Homo sapiens: one gene and its partners. The protein of the gene in region 4 interacts with the protein of the main gene of each other region in a pairwise test. Each region holds a gene or a part of one and is shown on either strand. Other genes may lie near its edges.

Region 1 (7,932 bases), on a different chromosome or scaffold from region 4:
GGTGGTCAAGGAGGGAGTGGTGGGAGAAAAGGGAGCCTTAGAGCCTTGCCCGCCTCCATTCTGAGGGGCTGGGATGGTCATTTGGCTGGTGAAAATTAAGGTATCTTTAGGAAGACTCACACTGAGAGCTGATATCTGTGGCCTTGGTTTGGGGCCTTGTTCATTCAATCTTGCCTACTATAGCCTTTTAGTCCTCACCCAGATATCTGTTAATTTAGACCCTCAATGCCTTCATGTCTCCTCACCTGTGGGACACCTAGCATACTTCACAGAGCCACGAGGAGCCAGGAGTGCCATATAAAGCCCAGCTTTGCAGCTACATCCTTCGATCCCTGCAGAACCACCCTGTGTGTTATCTTCCCCAAGACTCCCACATGGGTGGTGGCCAGAAACCCCTCTGCTTTTGGCTATTCCATCAGCTGCCTTGATATACCTTCCACGGAAACTAGAGCACCTGGGTCTGACTGCCTGTTTCCCCTCCCACCCTCCTTCCTTCCTTCTCTCCACTCTCCATGAAGGTAAAGCACGACAAGCTTCCCCTTCCTATCTCTGTGGGACAGAGACTTGCCATACTTTTCTTCTTCCCTCTGCAATACTATCACAATACATTTTAAAGTCTCTAAAGTGTATACAGCACACACATTACTTCCTTCAATGTCATCTTCACCAAAACTCAGCACAGTAGGTAACATCATCCCCATTTTCCAGGTGAGGAAAGTGAGACTTAGAGAAGTTTCATGAAGTGACAGAGCAAAAACCTACACCACACTTTCGCTTCAAAGGCTGGTGCTTATGCCTTTTTGTATAAAACTAACATCTCATCCACATTTGATCTGTTATAAGTCCATGATTCTTGGTGTAAAGGAGAGACTTGATAGAGAAGAAGGCAGGGGTGGGGGCTGGGGGTAGTGCCTGGACAGACAATCCGTGGGCAGTTGTCACCTGTGTAGAAATAAAGATAAGGAGGTAGCAGTGGGGATAACACAGACCCATGAGCCTTTATCTCCAGCAAAGAGAGAGAGAGAAGTTAGAAAGAATGGAGGAGGAAGGAAGGGTTGAGAGGAGACATATAAATGGAGAGAAAGCCTGTGGTTATATCCATGGCAGCCCTACCATGCCTCTCCTTCTGCAGAAGCCCATGCGTTCATTCCTGGTTTCTTCATATCTTAAAGTGAAGTTAAAAGAACATAAAATTAGCCAGGCATGGTGGCTCACGCCTGTAATCCCAGCATTTTGGGAGGCCGAGGTGGGCGGATCACGAGGTCAGAAGATCAAGACCATCCTGGCCAACATGGTGAAATCCCATCTCTACTAAAAATACAAAAATTAGCTGGGAGTGTTTGGTGGGGGGTGCACCTGTAATCCCAGCTACTTGGGAGGCTGAGGCAGGAGAATTGGTTGAACCAGGGAGTTGGAGGTTGCAGTGAGCTGAGATCACTCCATTGCACTCTAGCCTGGTGACAAAGCGAGACTCCATCTAAAAAAAAAAAAACAAAACAAAAAACAAAAACAAATAAACAAAAAACCGGGTGCAGTGGCTCACGCCTGTAATCCCAGCACTTTGGGAGGCCAAGGCAGATGGATCACCTGAGGTCAGGAGTTTGAGACCAGCCTGACCAACATGGAGAAACCCCGTCTCTACTAAAAATACAAAATTAGCTGGATATGGTGGTGCATGTCTGTAATCCAGCTACTCAGGAGGCTGAGGAAGGAGAATTGCTTGAACCTGGGAGGCAGAGGTTGTGGGGAGCCAGGATTGCACCATTGCACTCCAGCCTGGGCAACAAGAGTGAAACTCCGTCTCAAAAAAAAAAAAAAGATAAAATTGCCTTGGATCATTATATATTATACAATGGAAATCCTTTGTCTCGAGTATTAGGACTTAAAGGGATATGAAGCAGAACTCAGGTGGCTGCTTTCTCCCATCAAGTTAAAAAAAAAAAAAAAGAAGAAAGAAAGAAAGGCTGTGGACCCTGGTACACATTAGCACAGCAGCTGGTCAACTCTGGTCATTTCTAGGAGCGCTGTGCTCAGAATCGTGTGCTATGGGCCCGGTGGATCTGCATTAATCTTTTCAAAAATGCAAATCTCAGCTTCAAATTCAACAGCCTCCTCTGGAATTTCAAAGAGTTCTGGGTTGTTTAAAGGTTGAGTGGAATTCCTGAGCCTGTGTTAACTGGTCACAGTCTACTGACTCTCATAATTAGCGCAAGACCACTGTGTTGTGTAAATGCCACTCAGTATTCAACAATGACTAACCACTCCATTTCAGATTGTTTACTTAAGTGGGGGGCTTTCATCCACAATCAGTGTTTCTGAGCATTTAACCTATTTAATACTGAGAGACGAGAGAGAAGGCGAGTTGCCCATTTCTCTATTTCTTCCCCTACACCCTAACCGCTCCCCAACTCCAGCCACCAAATCCCAGTATTGTGCGTAGCCCAGTTCTAAGTCTTGTCTGGCTATTAAGCTGCATGACGTTGGCTACCCTGAGCCTCAGTTTCCTTATCTGCAAACTCCAGGGGCAGAATTGGATGATGTCGAAGGTCCTTTCTACCTCTGAAATACACTGACTGGGGGAGAAGATGAAATGTCTCCTTTGTGAAAATCTAAACGTATTTATTACGTACCAAAAACCACAGCACGGCCGACTCCAGACTTGGGAAGTGTCTAGCAGTTGTCCACGTGTCGCCTGTCTTTTATTGCAATGGACCAGTGCAAGAAGTAGGAAGCTTGAGCAAGATCCAGTTTTAAAGATATCAGCCGAGTAACATTTAGAAAAATGGGCAGAACACAACAGCAGAGTAAGAAAGTAAAACTTGTCAACAAATTTGTATGGTTAAATGTGTGTGTGCGTAAGAGTCATGTTCACTCATATTTTATTTTTTAGGGATGATATTAGAACTGTATTTGGAGACAAAATGAGCCATGGGTCCTGGCTGAAATGCTAAACTGATACATAAACACCAAGGAGAGGAACTTGCTTCCTTCTAAGGGGTGTGGAAAGTTGGAGAATAAAAGAGCCTCGTGGGATAGGGGGCAGTGATGCCAAGTGCTATTTATGGGCTATTTATGGGCCACCAGAGATTGAACTGCCTGTGGGGAGAAGGATCCAGAAGGGACTCTGGGTAGCAGAAATATCTGAGATGGAGTTTTACCTTTTTTGATGTGGAGTGAGTGAAGAGAGCCTCCTCTTTTACTTTCCTTAAGAAATCTTCAGTCCAGTATACGTTATACATTAATTAAGTTGGTATTTTGAGTGTGTTGCTTTTCGGGGTATGTAGAAGAGAGGCTGAATTCTCATTTGGCTTGATGTTGGAATCAGGAACAGTCAACTTTGATACGGGGCACAAGAGCGGGCCATAGCTGATACCCTGGTTTCTCTGTCTGGGCCTGGCCTATCTTGTGGCTGGGTGCACACCTGCTTTATTTTTTACTTGAAATGTCTTCTTTTTCCACCTGTCCTACTCATGTCTTCAAAGCCTAATTTTCATTTTCCCTGATCACTCCACCTCCTCTCTGCCCTCATTCATTCATTAGTGACTACAGGCTGGAGATGCCAATTTCAGGGCTTCTGCCCTAAGCCCCCAAGGGAGCTGTGTGCTTCTTGAGTGCAGATACTTTGTTTCACTCTTCCCCACTCTACCCCCCAAACCAGAAGAACAGAGCTCCTGTTTCTTCCTTTCCATGGTAGGCCCAACACCTGGCTTTGTGCCTGGCACACAGCAGACATTCAACATTTGTAGAACTGATAGACTATTAGATTAGTAGTGACAAATACTCCCCGAAGAAAATGCTTATTTGAACATACATCCCAAATTTTCTGCCCTCCAGAAAATGCTTCCTTGGAAGGATTTAAGACAGTTTGATGTCTCTGCAAACATTATCTGCGTTTAGGGACCAACTTGCCCTTCTCAGCGTTCACCTGGGATGTCTTTATTCTTCCATTTAACCTTTACAGGGGACCCCGATGGTGACGTGTCCTTCCTAGGGGCCATTACCTCTCTCAGGGATCCTAGTGTCTGGTAGAAAACAACAGCTCCAAGTTCTCTGCATCCAAACTTCGCCAGGATACGCAGATAAACCTATTTAAAAAAAAAAATCTTTTTAAATTCTCAACTTGGTGGTGTAAATAAGGCCCTTGCAGCGCCCTCAAGTAATAATCAACGGCAGTCATTATGGAAGGAGGGTAGAGATGAGCGCCTTACTCAAAGCCAAGACATTCACAATTTCTCGGGCCGGCTGCCTGTGCCTGGGCGTGTGCACTGTGCACTCCGAAGCTGTGTGCGGCGGTGGCCTTGGAGGTGCGCGTGGCCTTAGGAATTCCCGCGGTCGGGCACCCTCCGCTTAACACCGGGCCGTGTCCCCGGCCTGGGAGCCGAGCAGCGCGGCTCTGGCATGCTAAGTGGGCAGCACTGGGGCGCCTTTGTTCCTCGCGGCCGTCTCCCAGGACCGGCTTCCCTCTGAATCTAAATGGGCTTCTCCCTCACCCGCTCCGCCCTGGCCTCCTGGCCTGGGCACGGCGCCCCTGGGTAAAGCGCGCCCGGACACCTGGGGCGTGGGCGTGCGGGGGCAGCCCGGGCTAGGCGAGCGCGGGAGAGGCGCCTGCGGTCCCAGCCCGGCCAGGCCCGAGCACCTGCGCGAGCCCGAGGGAGCGCCCGGCCCTCTGCCCCCGCCAGTCGCCGGCGCCCAACTTGGGGGTCCCGCCGTCCGCAGCCCCAAGTCTCGCGGTGCTACCGCTCTGACCGGGGAGCCGCGGGCCGGGCGCCCCCCGCCGCGCGACAAAGGCTGAACCGGGAGGAGGAGGCCGAGGAGGGGGAGGAGGAGGAGAGAAAGGCGGGGACGGCGAGCGGCCGCGGCGGCGGGGAGAGCGGAGGGAGCGCCGCCCGCCCGCGCCGTCCTTTGTGTGGCGGCGGCGGCGCCTGGGCCTGACCGGGTCCCCGGGGCTGAGCGCCGGGCTCCGCGCCGCCCCTCCCGCGCCCCTGCCAAGCGGGCGCCTATCCTCTCCGAGCAAGATGGCAACCCCGGCGGCGGTCAACCCTCCGGGTGAGTAGCGGCCTGGGCCCCGCCGCCCGCCGCAGCCCGCAGGCCTTGCCCGGGGCCGGAGCGGACCAGGCGCGCCGGGCGCCCCCGGGGGCGCGGAGCCGCAGCTCGGCGCGGTGGGTGGTGGAGCGGCTGTCACTACGCGGCAGCCGCAGCATCAGCACCAGAGCGGCATCTGCATCCCAATCGCTGCCCATCCGGTCCCGGGCAGGCGCCGGTCCGGACCCGCGGGCGGCCGGACGCTGGCCTCGCATCCTCGGGAACCCGAAGGGCAGGCCCGGGAGCCCCCGAAGTTCTGAAAATAACCGCCTTTGCCTTCCCCATCCCACGCATTTTTCTCTTCCGGTCCCGGCTTTTGTGGCATCACGGCGTCAGCCAGTCCTGGCTGGTGGAGGGCTCCGCGCTGACGGAGGGAAAAGTTTGGAGCTGGGATTCAACAGGGTACAACTCCCGGGACTCTCCCCTGCCCGCCCCGCCCACTAAGCGCTGGTCCTTTGCGCCCTTTGCGACTGGCTGCTGTGTGTCCTAACCCTCCGGGGGCACAAAACACCCAGCCTGTGGTCACCAGCGTGGAGCAGCCCTGGTCCTGCCCAGGTGACATCCTCTGCTTTCTGGTCTGACCTGTCCCCAGGGTGCAGTCTGTGACAACTGAGCTCATTAGGAAATATTTCAAAAATGGAAGAGTTCTTGATCAAGTGGCAACATTGACTTGTTTTGGTATTGTAGTAGGGAAGTTCCGTTTTCACTGGGAAAGTTCCCTACCTGATGAGCAGGGTGTGGGAGAAGAGAAACGTGAACATCTAAGCTAGTACAAACTTTTGGGTGTTGTGCAGAGGCTGCTGTGGGCACGGCAGGTTGCTGGGTCCCTGTGGAAGATGCAGGGAGAGTCACAGAGGGCGGCCCCCAGGAAATTCCCAGCAGAGGGAGGTCATGTGTTGGAGATAGGGAGGGTCGGGGGAGGAACAGCAATGCCTAGCAAAGAAAAGTGTCTCTCATCATAGAATTAGGAATGAAAGATCCCTTTCATCTAAGGCGGCCAGGGAAGGCTTCTGGAGATTGGACATTTCGGCTGAACCTTGAAAACGGGAATGTTTGAATATACAGAGCCAGTAGCAGAGGGGCATTGCAGGCGTAAGTAACAGTGGACTTGCTCTAAGCAAGTGCAGAGGTCAGTGAGTAGTTGGTGCACTGGGGATATAAGAGGCAGCAGTGGGATTTAACACTGAGTTGTTTGGATGTGACCAGGCTTTAAAGGACAGACTGAGGAGTATGGACTTTCTCTCTCCACATTAAGGGAGAGTCCTCTGCACACTTCCTAAGAACCAGAAAAATAAAATAAAATAGAAAAGAGAGAGAGAGACAGAGAGAGAGAGAGAGAGACCTCAATGGTATTGAACAAGGAAATCGCATGATCACTTTTTCTGGAAGACTGATTTGTCAGCTATGTCTAGGAAACATTCTAAGGAGGGAACAAGACTTGAGACAGGGAGGCCAGCATGAAATGAGGCAGGTGCTGGGGAGGCCAGAATTGGTGGCCATGGCTGGACCAGAGAGGAAGGAATGCACCACTGGGCGGGTAGAAGAGTTCCAGATTTGGCACTGATTAGATTTGGAGTAAGAGTAAAGGAGGAGGCCAAGGAGAGACAAAGGGGAGGTGTCCATGGAGACACCAAGGTGAAGAGCCTGTGTAATTCCAAGGAAGGCAGTTCCATCAGCAGAAATAGGGACTCTTGGAAGAACAGACAAGGAGGCCTCTGTCCAGAACACTGAGGAGGAACGTGGCTGGTCTGAAAACAAATCTGTGCCAGTTTGCCTGTGACTGAAGCTGCAATTTCAACCCATTCAACTACTTCAAAATCAATGGAAAATTGATAGATGTAAATGTTATGAAATTAGAAAAAGCAAAAGATGTTAAATGAAAACATTTTAGTCCAATATACACTGGGAACAGGAATAAAATCCCTGGTGATTTACATAATTTCTATGCCAGGACATCATTGTTTAAAACTTTTTTGTCCATTACATTGCTCCATGAGCTACATGGACTAAAGATCTAAAGATGGAGTAACTGCCCCTGGCCCCGTGGTGTGAAGCACAGGAAAGCCTGTGCCTGTGCCTTGGACTGCGGGAGACTTGAATGGTACAAGCATAGGGTATTGTTGGCGTTGCTAGTCAACACCTGGCCAGCTTGACAGATGCTTTTCTCTGTTGACAGCTATACCAGAGATCTTCAGCATGGTGATAATTTCTCAAGGGAAAATTCCTTGAGGTGATCACCTTTCCTTTTACCATCATTTCTTTTACTGGTCCCCTGAGGATGATCCGTGGGGATGTGTTATTATTGCCCCATGTGAATCTCCATCTTTTTCTTTGGGAGAAAGGGTTTAATTTTAAGGGACATGGCTCAGGGTTTGAGCCAAAGAGAGAGAGTTCAGATTCTATGGGCAATTTACAACAAAAAGAGCCATGGTACCCAAGCTTGTCACCCAGAGCCTACCTCACATGGGCTTGTGAGACTTCTTTGAATTCCTTTTTCTTCCTGCCTCCTTTCCCCAGATATGGTTGCTTTGCAAAGAATAAGAGCTTGGTAAACAGAACCAAATGGATGGGGAAGCACCAGGATTTATTTCTGCTGCTAGTTCGTGTCCAGGGTACAAAGGCCACAGCCAGTCACCTCCCCACGCCCCCACTTGTTCCTTTTTTCCCAGCTGACCACTTCACAACAGCAGAACCATTTACAATGACACTCTTCTGTGATGTGTAGTGGGGATTCTCTAGGGTCTTGTTGGTGACCGGTGATGTTGGGGTCTTCACGCTCATGTTACTCATGTTACTCTGTGGATATAATACAGGTCCAAATTTGGAATCTGCTCCTTCAAGGTCCCCTGT
Region 2 (2,701 bases), on a different chromosome or scaffold from region 4:
CAGACCTGAGACGCACGATGCAGGAGCTGGAGATCGAGCTGCAGTCCCAGCTCAGCATGGTACGGCCACTCGCGCCCCATCCCAGCCTCTCGGGTGGTAGAAGCTCCCACTCTTCCTGGCTATTTAAGCCTTGGAGTTCTCAAGCCCCCTCAAGAGGTGGTTCCCTGAACTCCATTCAGTGCCCCCTCCCTGCTTGCCCTCAGTGGCTTCCTTTCTAGCCTGATGTGTCTATGCATCTGTCACTCCCCCAGAAAGCTGGGCTGGAGAACTCACTGGCCGAGACAGAGTGCCGCTATGCCACGCAGCTGCAGCAGATCCAGGGGCTCATTGGTGGCCTGGAGGCCCAGCTGAGTGAGCTCCGATGCGAGATGGAGGCTCAGAACCAGGAGTACAAGATGCTGCTTGACATAAAGACACGGCTGGAGCAGGAGATCGCTACTTACCGCAGCCTGCTCGAGGGCCAGGATGCCAAGTAGGCGCCTGGGCACAGGGGAAGGAGTGATGAGGGCTGCTTGTGGCTAGGGTGCAGGGTCATCCTAAGGGAATGGCAGGGTGTCCCTAAGCAGCCTTGAGGGACTGTGAAAAGAGAACTGAGCAAGGAGGGAGGATCTGGACTCCTCACTCTGGTCCTTGGCTGTTACCTGGGACAGGTCACTTCCTCTCTCTGGATCCGTGTTTCTTCTGTAAATGATAGAGGCTGGGCTAGTGGTAGTTAAGATCTAGTGCTCATTCCATTCTCTGCATGAGATAGATGGGTATTCTTGTAGTTCAGAATCTTGACCAGCTCAGTGGCTCATGCCTGTAATCCCAGCACTTTGGGAGTCCAAGGCGGGTGGATCACTTGAGGTCAGGAGTTCGAGACCAGCATGGCCAATATGGTGAAACCCCGTCTCTACTAAAAATACAAAAATTAGCTGGGCGTGGTGGCGGGTGCCTGTAATCCCAGCTACTCGGGAGGCTGAGGCACAAGAATCACTTGAACCCGGGAGGCGGAGGTTTCAGTGGGCTGAGATCGTGCCACTGCACTCCAGCCTGGGCGACAGAGTGAGATTCCGTCTCAAAAAACAAAACAAAACAAAACAAAATCTGTCTACTTGGGGATAGCAGGCCTGGATGGGCTAGCAGGATGTCCCACCCCTAGAGGAGTCAGATGTGTGGGTGGTGGTGGTGTAGGGTCTGAAGAACACTGCATAGCTATCTACATGAGCTTCCCTTACGGACACTTGAGCTTGTGCCCTTTGCTTAAATCAGCTTCCCTCTTTCTTTCAGGATGGCTGGCATTGCCATCAGGGAAGGTAGGAAGGCTTTACTCTTCTGGTGTGGGGTGGGGAGGGGAGATGTTGAAGCCACCACCCCCTTCGGAATAGGGAGGAAGGAGAAAGAGCCCAAACATCCCATTAGGTGGGAACATTCCCATTCATTAGATGCCTCTTCCCCAGTGGGAACTTCTGTCAGCCCCAGGTGAGATTGCAGCTGGTGATTTATTGAGAAACTTCCAGGTTGAGTAGGCTTCATTCAGGGCATGTCTCTCCCCCAGGCCCCATCTTCATACACTTCCGCTAAGATGCCCACAATTCATCCCCCTTCATGTGCAGCTTGAAAAACCCTGACATTGTTGCTCCCTGCCGGGCATACCTGCCATTGCCACTGCCCATCTCTGTGATGAGGAATTCAACACCAGATCTCTGGCAGCTCTTGAGGGATTGGCCAGTGGCCATTCTCAGGGGTGCTGTCTAGTTTTCCCAGAGCCCCGCCAAGGTCCTGGCCACCGTGGCAGAGCGGGGAGGTTCCCCCACTCTAAAGCCTACTCCTTCTCTCTCTAGCCTCTTCAGGAGGTGGTGGTAGCAGCAGCAATTTCCACATCAATGTAGAAGAGTCAGTGGATGGACAGGTGGTTTCTTCCCACAAGAGAGAAATCTAAGTGTCTATTGCAGGAGAAACGTCCCTTGCCACTCCCCACTCTCATCAGGCCAAGTGGAGGACTGGCCAGAGGGCCTGCACATGCAAACTCCAGTCCCTGCCTTCAGAGAGCTGAAAAGGGTCCCTCGGTCTTTTATTTCAGGGCTTTGCATGCGCTCTATTCCCCCTCTGCCTCTCCCCACCTTCTTTGGAGCAAGGAGATGCAGCTGTATTGTGTAACAAGCTCATTTGTACAGTGTCTGTTCATGTAATAAAGAATTACTTTTCCTTTTGCAAATATCTCTTGGCAGTATGTCCAGTTTTTCTTGATGGGGTCCTGGTTGGCCTCTGATCTCTGAGGAGACCCAGGGTCCACATGGTGATATCTCCCCCCACTTTGGCCTCTTCCCTGCGTGGCCACAATTCTTTTGGGTACCCAGGGCACCAGTGGCTGGGACAAACATAGTGCTACTCAGGTAATTTGCTCTTCTGGGTCACCATGGGGTGACCAGGGAAGTGAGGGTGGGGAGGTTCCCTAAAAAGAGTTTGGTGTACCCAGCACAGAACTCAACACATCTAATAATTATGAATATTTACCAAGTGACTGATCGCGTTGATTGTCTTTGTTCGCCATCCCATGGCTGGCATGATGCCAGGCACGCTCACCCATGGGGCTCATTTAATCCTCACCACTGTAGGTGGTCAGGATTTATTATTCCCACCTTAGAGATGAGGTCACTGGAGGCAGAGAGAAGAATAACTTGCCCCGGGCCTTGTGGATGGATGATAAGTAGCAGGGCTG
Region 3 (7,055 bases), on a different chromosome or scaffold from region 4:
AAGCTGGTTCTTTGAAAAGATAAAATTGATGGACCATTAGCAAGATTAACAAAGAATAGAGAAGACCCAAATAAGCTCAATTAGAAACAAAATGGGAGATATTATAACTGATACTACAGAAATACAAACAATTATTCAAGGCTACTGTGAACACCTTTACACATACAAATTAGAAAATCTACAGGAGATTGATAAATTCCTAGAAATATACAACCCTCCTAGATCAAACCAGGAAGAAATAGAAACTCTGAACAGACCAATGACAAGTAGTGAGATTGAAACAGCATTTTTAAAACTTGCCAACAAAAAAAAAGTCCGGGACCAGATGGATTCACGCTGAATTTTATCAGCCATTCAAAGAAGAATTGGTACCAATCCTACTGAAAATTATTCCAAAAGATAAAGAGAGAATCCTCCCTAAATCATTCTGTGAAGCCAGTATCACCCTAATACCAAAACCAGGAAAAGGCATAACAAAAAAAAAAAAAAAAAAAAGGAAACTATAGACCAATATTCCTGATGAATATAGATGCAAAAATCCTCAACAAAATACTAGCTAACTGAATCCAACAGCATATCCAAAAGATAATACATCATGATCAAGTGAGTTTCATACCAGGGATGCAGGGATGGTTTAACACACATAAGTCAATAAATATCATACACTACATAAACAGAATTAAGAATAAGAATTATATGATCATTTCAATAGATGCAGAAAAAGCATTTTACAAAATCTAGTATCACTTTATGATTAAAACCCTCAGCAAAATCAGCATAAAAGGGACATACCTTAAGATAATAAAAGCCATCTATGACACACCCACAGCCAGCATTATACTGAATGGGGGAAAGTTGAAAGCATTCCCCCCAAGAACTGGAACAAGACAAGGATGCCCACTTTCACCACTTCTATTCAACATAGTACTGGAAGTCCTAGCCAGAACAGTCAGACAAGAGTTCACCACTTCTATTGTACGTAGTACTGGAAGTCCTAGCCAGAGCAATCAGACAAGAGAAGGAAATAAAGGGCATCCAAATAGATAAAGAGGAACTCAAACTGTTGCTGTTCACCAATGACATAATAGTATACCTGGAAAACCCTAAGGACTTATCCAAAAAGCTCCTAGATCTGATAAATGGACTCAGTAAAGTTTCAGGGTACAAAATCAATGTACACAATGCAGTAGAACTGCTATACATCAACACTGAATAAGCTGAGAATCAAATCAAGAACTCAACCCCTTTTACAACAGCTGCAAAAAATAAAATACACCTAACCAAGGAGGTGAAAGATATCTACAAGAAAAACTAGAAACACTTCTTAAAGAAATCATAGATGACACAAACAAATGGAAACACATCCTATGATCATGGATGTGTAGAATTAATACTGTAAAAATGACCATACTGCCAAAAGCAATCTATAAATGCAATGCAATTCCCATCAAAATACCAATATCATTCTTCACAGAACTAGAAAAAATATCCTAAAACTCATATGCACCCCAAAAACCCCACAGAGCCAAAGGAAGACTAAGCAAAAAGAACAAATCTGGAGGCATCACATTACCTGACTTCAAACTATACTACAGGGCTATGGTTACCAAAACAGCATGGCACTGGTATAAATATAGGTATGTGGACAGATGGAGCAGAATAGAGAACCCAGAAATAAAGCCAAATACTTAAAGTCAACTGATCTTCGACAAAGCAAACCAAAACATAAAGTGGGGAAAGAATACCCTATTCAACAAATGGTGCTGGGATAGTTGGCAAGCCACATGTAGTATGAAACTGGATCCTCATCTCTCACCTTATATAAAAATCAAGTCAAGATTGATAAAAAACTTTAAGACATGAAGCCATAAAAATTCTAGAAGATAACATCGGAAAAACTCTTCTAGACATTGGCTTAGGCGAAGAATTCATGACCAAGAACCAAAAGCAAATGCAACAAAAACAAAAATAAACAAATGGAACCTAATTAAAATAAAAATCTGCACAGCAAAAGAAATAATCAGCAAAGTAAACAGACAACCCAGAAAGTGGGAGAAAATCTTCCCAAACTATGCATCTGACAAAGGACTAACATCCAGAATCTACAAGGAACTCAAATCAGTAAGAAAAAAACAAGTAATCCCATCAAAAAATGGGCTAAGTATGTGAATAGACAATTTGCAAAAGAAGATAATACAAGTGGTCAACAGATATGAAAAAATGCTCAACATCACTAAAGATGGAGGAAATGCAAATCAAAACCACAATGCAATCACCACCTTACTCCTACAAGAATGGTCATAATTAAAAAATGAAAAAATAATAGATGTTGGCATGGATGTGGTGAAAAGGGAATACTTTTACACTGCTGGTGGGTATGTAAACTAGTACAACCACTATGGAAAACAGTATGGAGACTCCTTAAAGAACTAAAAGTGAACTACCATTTGATCCAGCAATCCCACTGCTGGGTTTCTACCCAGAGGAAAATCAGTCAGTATATGAAAAAGACACTTGCATGTGCATGTTTATAGCAACACAATTCACAACTACAAAAATATGGAACCAGCCTAAATGCCTATCAACCAATGAGTGGGTGAAGAAAATACATACGCACACACACACACACACACTCTCTCACACACTCACACTCCATGGAATTCTACTCAGCCATAAAAAGGAATGAAATTATGGCATTCACAGCAACCTAGATGGAGTTGGAAACTATTATTCTAACTGAAGTAACTCAGGAATGGAAAACCAAACATTGTTACGTTCTTACTTATAAGTGGGAACTAAGCTTTGAGGACACAAAGGCATAAGATTGATATAATGGACCGGGTGTGGTGGCCTACACCTATAATCCCAGCACTTTGGGATGCTGAAGCAGGTGGATCACCTGAAGTCAGGAGTTTGAGACCACCCTGGCCAACATGGTGAAACCCTGTCTCTACTAAAAACACAAAAGTCAGCCGGGTGTGGTGGCACACACCTGTAATCCCAGCTATTCAGGAGCCTGAGGCAGGAGAATTGCCTGAACCCAGGAAGCAGAGGTTGCAGTGGGCCAAGATTGCACTACTGCACTCCAGCCTGAATGAAAAGAGCAAAACTCCATCTCCCACACACACAAAAAAGATTGATATAATGGATTCTGGGGACTCTGGTGGAGGGTGGAGGAGGGATGAGGGATAAAAGACTATACATTGGGTACAGTGTACACTGCTTGGGTAATGGCTGCACCAAAATCTCAGTAACCACCACTAAAGAACTTGTTCATGTAACCAAACATCACCCATTTCCCAAAAACTATTGAAAGAATAATAAAAAAAGATTTACATTTATAGTGTGCTTAATATCTTATAAAGTGCATTTACCTCTATTTTATGTAGAGTAACAGATATTTTCCTCATGTTAATGGTGTATATTAGTGCATACTATATACTGTGTCTTTTGGTATAGCAAAATAACATCATTCTGTCTAAAACACCAATAAGGCCCTCATTGAGAAACAACGTAGGATCATGAGCTGTGAACATTCATGGGTAAAACATTAATCTCTCTCTTTAACAACAAGCTGAGCTCTTTTATCTCTCTATTGCCAATATATGGCCTAGTACCTGGAACAGAGTAGGTGATCATCAAATATTTGATAAATAATTTAAAAATAGTTATTAGAGTTTTAGCAATCTGTGGTTTTTTTTCCTAATTTTTTTGATAACTCCAACCTCTGGAACAACTCACTTCCAAATAAATTTGTAGTCACTGACAATAAAATAAGAAACATCTTGATTTGTAATTATTTTCCACTATATCTTTGATTCTTGTGCACAAATTGGACTTAACCTAGAATTATTTCTGCATTAGAATAGAACTTACAAGTTATCTAACTCATCTAATTAGTTTTTATCTAATTCACCTTATCTCTTGGTTTTATTATGTATATACACATTTGTATTTATATTGCTCTTCCTTGGGAACTTTATAATTGTTTTTATATCCATATTAGGTTGAAAAATATGTTATAATGGTCTCATAACTATTTGATTTTATGTTTTAACACTGGTGATAAATTTTCTCTGCACAGCCTTCAAAACATCTTTCTCTGGTTAAATGGAACAGCAATGACATATAGTGGTTGTCTAGTTTATTCTTTAGATTTTATTATAGAAAATATACTATAGGTTGGTCATGTTTTAATTAAACCTCATGCTAACATTTCATGTTGTAATAAAAAACTGGCCGTAGATTATTTTCTTACTCAATAAGTCATTAGAAGACCACATTAGACAAATTTTCACCCAAAGCAATATTATTTATTTAAATATAAAAAATAAAAACATAGTCTAGGTAAATGTTAGTAGCAACTCAATATGTCCTCTAAGAATTGAAAGTAAGAGTTTCTAAATGCAAATAATCCATGCTTTTCTTGCTAAATATGTTTTTGTTTATCCCAAAGTCTAGGAAATAGGAATTTACTTACTAAAAGCCCTGCTGTAATTATGGATGAAGATTGTAGAAGCACGGATGAAATAAGACAGTCAGACTACATTACTGAAAAACACTCAATACAGCATATTTGGGGGAAAAATGGAAAGGAAGTTTCAAATTTTCTTGAAGATGTGAACCAGTCTACTCCTAACCTTCTATCAGAGAATTGTGACTCTTTTGTTAGTCAAAATATGATCAATGTATTAAACATAGATGAGCAAAGGATAAAGAAAACATTTAACAAGTGTGATTATGATAGTATGGGAGATACTTGTGTAGTCACTAGTTCTGATAAAAACCATGTCACTGACAGATGCATTAGAAACATTTTTACAGTTCCAGAGTTGACTTTTAGTAATTCGACTTTGAATAAAACAAGTTATCCAGAAAAATGTCAGCCAAACAAGAAGTATCAGAGAGAGTATAACAAAAATGAAAGAAATGATCTTAGTACATCTTTTGAGAACGATTACTACCCAAGCAGCTCTGAAAGAAAAGGTTGGTATTGTACATGGAAAATGTAATTACATATTCTTTTTTTCTTTCAGTTTTAGTATATATATTTGTATATTCATACACACACATCTATATATTTGTATGTGTGTTTATGTGTTTGGAGGAAAATGAAACCAAAAATAGAATGGCTTCCTATTATATAACATTGTGGACCAGTGGTTTTCCTCTGTACGTGTCATGTGAATATGCTTTGAATTAAAAAATGAAAATAGACTATGCTAAATTTTTAACTCGGTGCATACTTTTATTTTTTAAGAAAAATTTGAAAATGATTACCAAGAGAAGACACCACAGAAAAGTATTCAGAAATATCCAGCAAACTCTATGTAAGTTTTTAGGTAAATCTGGGGAATACAAATCAGGATCTAGTATGATGCATGATGAATGTTGAATTGATGCAAAGTGAGGTAGGCGTATTGCCATTTGAGGGTGGGCAGGCAACCTGGTCTCAAAGGAGCCTTACCAGGAGTCACAGTGTTGATAATATCACCCCAGTTGAGAGTGTGGTGCTCATATTTGCCAGCTCCCAAATACCTTCTTATCTGAATATTAGTGTTGATTAGATTTGAGGAAATTGATTTAATGTGTTCAAGAAACTCATATCCGCCAGAATGTCAATTTATTAACTTAAAGTAATAAATAGAAAGGGAACATGTATAGGAAGTCTTATTGACATGAAAAAGCATATTTTCTTACTTTCAAACAGCTCTCAGTGGGAAGGTTGCTTGCTTGGTTGGTATAGAATCACTATAGGGAGTGATAGAATTCAGATGTTAGTGGCATAAGCAAGCATATCAGCAGTTTATAGGACAGTGTACATTTTAGGGATAGAGCACTCTTCTCATTGCCAACATTTACCTCTCAGAGACTCCATGTTTTCTCTATGTTCAAGATTACAATCTCCTCTACCCATACATTGAAAACAATTATGTTTCACCAGATTTTTCTTTCTCTTCTTGCAGCTGGTGTACAAAATGTTCTGAGTTTAAGGTGATTTTTACACTCATCCATTATGTGTTGATGTTAAATTTATTCCTTAAAAGTTTGAGAACTGCCTTCCAGGCTTTTCTGAATAATGACCTGCAATTATAAGTAACTAAAGAAAACTTTATTTTAGCTAGTAGTTTCTAGCTAAAATAGTCCTAACTTTCTTGGTAATAGTCCTAACTTTCTTGGTAATAATTACAATTTAGCCAAATCTTTCTGGTTGGAAATCATGAACTAGAATAAATTTTTATTCTGGAAGTGATTTCTTGTGGAATTATTAAAAATATTGATTGATAAAAAGATGCAATTTTAGTGGGATTGGCACTACAAATTAATTAAAACATAGACTTACAAAACATTTCATAAAATTGGCAAATTTGTATTTTTGTTGTTATATCTCCCAATATCTAGAAATTTATGAGTGAAAAAATCATGTTAGGCCTTGAGTTTTAAATGTACCTTATGAAAGCAATTTAGAACATGGTTCCCAATCCTGACTGCAGGTCCAGATTACTTGAGGTAGTGATTTTAAACTATAGAATACCAAGATTGACCCGCACATAATAGGTGGGCTCCTTGGCATGGAGCTTATGAATCTTTATTTTTAAGAAAGCTTCCCATATAATTCTGATCTGAAGCCAAGTTTGGGAACTCTAATTTAGAACAATAATTCCCAGAGGGAACACAACAAACTTTGATACTGTGTATTTATAATCCTTAGGGGAAATATACCTTCGGAAGAATTGCACTCTAAGCAGTCATGGGACTTTGGACTTGATGAGGTAAAGCACAGTCTCACATTATCTTCTCAATTAAGTCAGTTTGTATTACCATATCACATTACTGTATTTAACGTTCACTTTGATTTAAGCTTAACATTTATTCATTAATTTTTATTGGATGGACTCTTTTTCTTATACTTTTTTATTCTGAGGAAATTATAGCTTAGATCTAGAAATAAAAACACGTTTTCAGAGACTGTTAACATGTTTTATTTGAGACAAAATCTTGAGGACATTTTAAACACATTTTTTAAGTATTACAAAACTTCTGTATTAGTTGAT
Region 4 (3,599 bases):
CATTTCGTTACACTTCTATATCACAGTAAGTCTTTTGTGTTTATAAATACTTGAGTGTCCACTATTTTGTTTATTCTTTTTCTCAATAGCAAACAAAGCCTTGGGTATTGATGAAAAGTATGTATAAAAAAAAATACGGCACAACCATCCTGTTCTCTTATTGAGTTTATAGCTTTTGAAGGAAGTCACAATTTCTAAGTCATACCTGTACATATTTTGAAGCTCACTTAGTTGTAGGGACCCAGAGCTCTTTTTTTATGGTGATCTTTGATTGGTGAAGTAGCCATTTCCTGGTGACCCTTAGGCTCGTGTGGTTGGCTGTAAGGTGTTTATTTTGTTTTGCTCCTACACTTCTTTACTGACTGCGTTTCCGTATGTATTTTGGGGGAAGATTCTGACTTCATTTAGTCTTAGTCTTGAGATACTGAGTTGCTGGTTGCAGGCAGCAGAGTGTCCACCACAGTGCCTGCACTGCCCGCAGAGCTGCCCTCCGGAAAGCATGCAGTATAACAGCTAGTGCTGGAAGGAGGAAAACCAAATAGGCCTGGAGGCTGAGGTTGTACTGCCAGCTTCCTTAGATGTGAGCAAATTTCAACTACAACTTCCATCACAGGCTAATAAAACCAGGTGTGTGAACGCTACTATTTTAAATTTTCTTTTTTAAGATGGCATTTTATTTTGTTCCAGAAAAGCGCCTGATGTAGACCCTCCCTCTGAGAATAGCCGTGGAGCCATGTAGAGAGGTGTAGCTCAGCACATCTCAACTACCAGTCAGCTTCCCTTTGAGAACTTCTGTGCTCACTTCCTGTTTTCAGAGATTCCAGGGCAGGGGAAAAAAAAAATCAGTTGAACTTCAAACCTCCTAGAGGAGATTGTAAAGGCATAGAGTTGAGGTGAATAGTTTTGTTAGAACCTTATAAAAATAAAATGCAAGAAAATAATATGAAGAAATCACATATATATGTTTGAATTAGATGTCTGTTTGAATTAGATCCTTGGGGAATTTCTTCAAACTAGTTCTGGTTCTTATATTTGTTTTTTTTCCTTTAAGGAACTTTCTGAAGGAAGTTAGACTGCGATGGTAAAGGGGGAAATGGGTTAATGAGATTGCAGGCATTTTCTATATTCTTTTTGGCATAAGCACTTATGTCCCTGATATGTACAAATTCAAAGGAGGTGGTTAATAACTTTAGTAAATAATATATTGTCGCATTTAATGATGTGGAGGGCTAAGGTCATTACGGACTTTAAATAAACTATTATATGGCTGGTTCCTCAAGCACTGCTGCGTATTTAATAATGAGCTTCTAAAAGCATTTCTTAAGTTGCAGACCTATAAGATTACAAATGTCACTCATGTTAGTATAATCCACATGCAAGTGATGAAGCCTTCTCTTTGATGTGCTAAATTGGAGAAGGACTAATGGAGCTATGAATATACAATAGAACATATTTAAGTAGTAGTCTTGCTTTAGGTAAAACACTTTCTTGAAACCAGAGGCATTTCAAACAATAAAACCCGGCTCTAATGGGGATGCTCTGTGTGGATAGAAAGCTACTAAAAACACTCAGGTTTATTCTGATGTGAGCAGCGATTGTGTGCAGTTCCTCCCCCAATCTCAACATTGCTTAGGAAAAAAAAAAATCTATGAGTTTATTCCACCTTTCATCCATTGCATTTGTGATGTTATTAGTTAGCAAGATGGACACTGTTCTTTAGAAAGGACTTATTTAATATTAACCACGTCATAGAGCAAGATGGCCCCCAGTCCCTACAAGCAAGTGCAATTAAAAATAAAAGCAAATGTTACTGAGCCCTGCTGAACTCCTGATAAAAAAAATTATGTTTATGGTACATATAAATGTCTCAATCATGCAAATTGTCACTCTTGTTAATGAAACAATTTTGTAAAAAGATAGTCCTCTAAAAGGGTTTAATGTTTTTTACCTATCTAACTGTCTAATTAGATTTACACATCCCGCAAGGCAGGGGAGCCTGAAGCTTTTCCAAACCAAATCGTTTGCCACTAGAAACTATTTTCAGCTCTTCATGATTTATTAGGAAATAGTTTAACCCGGACTGTAGTGTCTTATAAAATACAAAACGAGAAAACTGACACACCAAAATGAAGTCTGTGAAATTGTCATCCTCTTAATATTACCTGTATTTAAATTCTTTCTTTTGCCCTTATTAACACTGATATTTGAAACAACTAATCATCTAAAAGGAAGCTCTTAAAGGGCTTTAAATGTCAATATAGTAAGATTCTAATGTGCACTACTATTTATATAAAATATTTCTTAGGGCCCATAAATCATATAATAAACAGTGAACCCAAGAGCTACATATGGAGTCTAGTGAAGAGTTCCCATGTAGCCTAACTAATTGTATTTAAATTGAGGAGATCCAAAAACCCCATCACCCTTCACCCCAAAGACCCCTTCACCCTTCACCAGGGAATTCTATCCTGGGTGCTGTCCCACCTATGACCCCTTCAAGAGGCCATTGGAAAAAGGCCATTTACAAGTTAATGTTACTTATAGCTTTGTTACTAAGACTCACCTATTGTTAGTGCAGCCAAGTCACAGAAGTGCTTATTGCAGTTAAATAGCAATTTGTTTCCATGAAACTGCAATTAAAGTATTACTGAGCAGCCATTTTAGATTGGCAGTGCTCTGAACGCATGTTAAACAGCCAGCTACTCCCACTTGCAGAGTCTGAGATCTGACTAGCAGCAAAGTGTAGCACATTCGCCGATGCTGGGTACCTAGTTAAAGAGGCATTTGTAGCCCTCTGCTCCCATCGTGAACATGCTGAGAGCAATGACAAGTCAGGGCTGATTTTTGGAAGGTGAACTTGCAACTTACCTCAAGTGAATACTGTTTTCAGTTGTGCAAGAAGTGCTTTATGCTAGTAGATATGTGCATGTTTCCTAGAGGGAATGTTTTCAAGTTCAGATTGATTCTGCTGAGAATGGACGGCAACTCGGAGGCCTCAAGCCAATAATGTACTACAGGCCCTGACATGTTACAGCTGTGTAAACAGGGCCATTCTATTTCCTAAATCACAACTAATAAAGCAGAGGATGAAAATCAATTGATTCTGTTATAAGTTCTTTGAATGACACTGGAAAGTTGTTTAATGACTCCCTGTTAGAATGGACAAGCCTGAGTAGAGTCACCAAAGTACCGATTTTAATTGTCTCTCTCCCCTCAGAACCAGGGCAGGACAGCCTTTCCTAGGAATTGACATCACCATCACCAGATCAAAACCTGCTGGGGAGAGGAAGGATCTGAACTGAGTTCTTCCCGTAGATCTGACATTCAGAATTTGTTGAGTGAGAAAGGTGAAGTGCAAAGGTTGCATTGAAAATGTGAAACATTGATGCAAGATCCTGAGAGAGAAAAGGATTTCAGAGGTGGTGTTTTAAAATGCAATTAGCACTGAATTCTAACCAGTTTGGAAACAATCATTAGCTCATGAGAACGGGAGGCATCTCACCTTCCTTCACTCTGGAACAACCCCCCATCTTGAACTAAAAGGTTAACATCCCCAACTTCTTCAAAAACAGTTTCTATATTTGTGTGCTTTCACCTGT

Evidence for each region.
Region 1: the proteins of LMO4 (region 4) and ARNT2 interact in binary tests that used the Homo sapiens proteins (3 or more experiments, as listed by UniProt).
Region 2: the proteins of LMO4 (region 4) and KRT15 interact in binary tests that used the Homo sapiens proteins (3 or more experiments, as listed by UniProt).
Region 3: the proteins of LMO4 (region 4) and REDIC1 interact in binary tests that used the Homo sapiens proteins (3 or more experiments, as listed by UniProt).

Annotation. Positions count from the first base shown.
Region 1 is NC_000015.10:80,399,501-80,407,432, forward strand, and holds the start of ARNT2 (aryl hydrocarbon receptor nuclear translocator 2), read left to right. Parts: upstream 1-4,881; 5' UTR 4,882-5,015; coding exon 5,016-5,046; intron 5,047-7,932. UniProt on the Homo sapiens protein: Transcription factor that plays a role in the development of the hypothalamo-pituitary axis, postnatal brain growth, and visual and renal function. Specifically recognizes the xenobiotic response element (XRE).
Region 2 is NC_000017.11:41,513,243-41,515,943, reverse strand, and holds the end of KRT15 (keratin, type I cytoskeletal 15), read left to right. Parts: coding exon 1-59; intron 60-251; coding exon 252-472; intron 473-1,269; coding exon 1,270-1,295; intron 1,296-1,803; coding exon of another isoform or gene 1,804-1,823; coding exon 1,824-1,921; 3' UTR 1,922-2,199; downstream 2,200-2,701.
Region 3 is NC_000012.12:39,678,155-39,685,209, forward strand, and holds part of REDIC1 (regulator of DNA class I crossover intermediates 1), read left to right. Parts: intron 1-4,456; coding exon 4,457-4,986; intron 4,987-5,260; coding exon 5,261-5,330; intron 5,331-5,966; exon of another isoform or gene 5,967-6,158; intron 6,159-6,712; coding exon 6,713-6,773; intron 6,774-7,055. UniProt on the Homo sapiens protein: Involved in recombination, probably acting by stabilizing recombination intermediates during meiotic crossover formation. Required for normal germline development and fertility.
Region 4 is NC_000001.11:87,345,827-87,349,425, forward strand, and holds the end of LMO4 (LIM domain transcription factor LMO4), read left to right. Parts: 3' UTR 1-3,097; downstream 3,098-3,599. UniProt on the Homo sapiens protein: Transcription cofactor. Plays a role in establishing motor neuron identity, in concert with MNX1, acting, at least in part, to disrupt LDB1-LHX3 complexes thereby negatively modulating interneuron genes in motor neurons.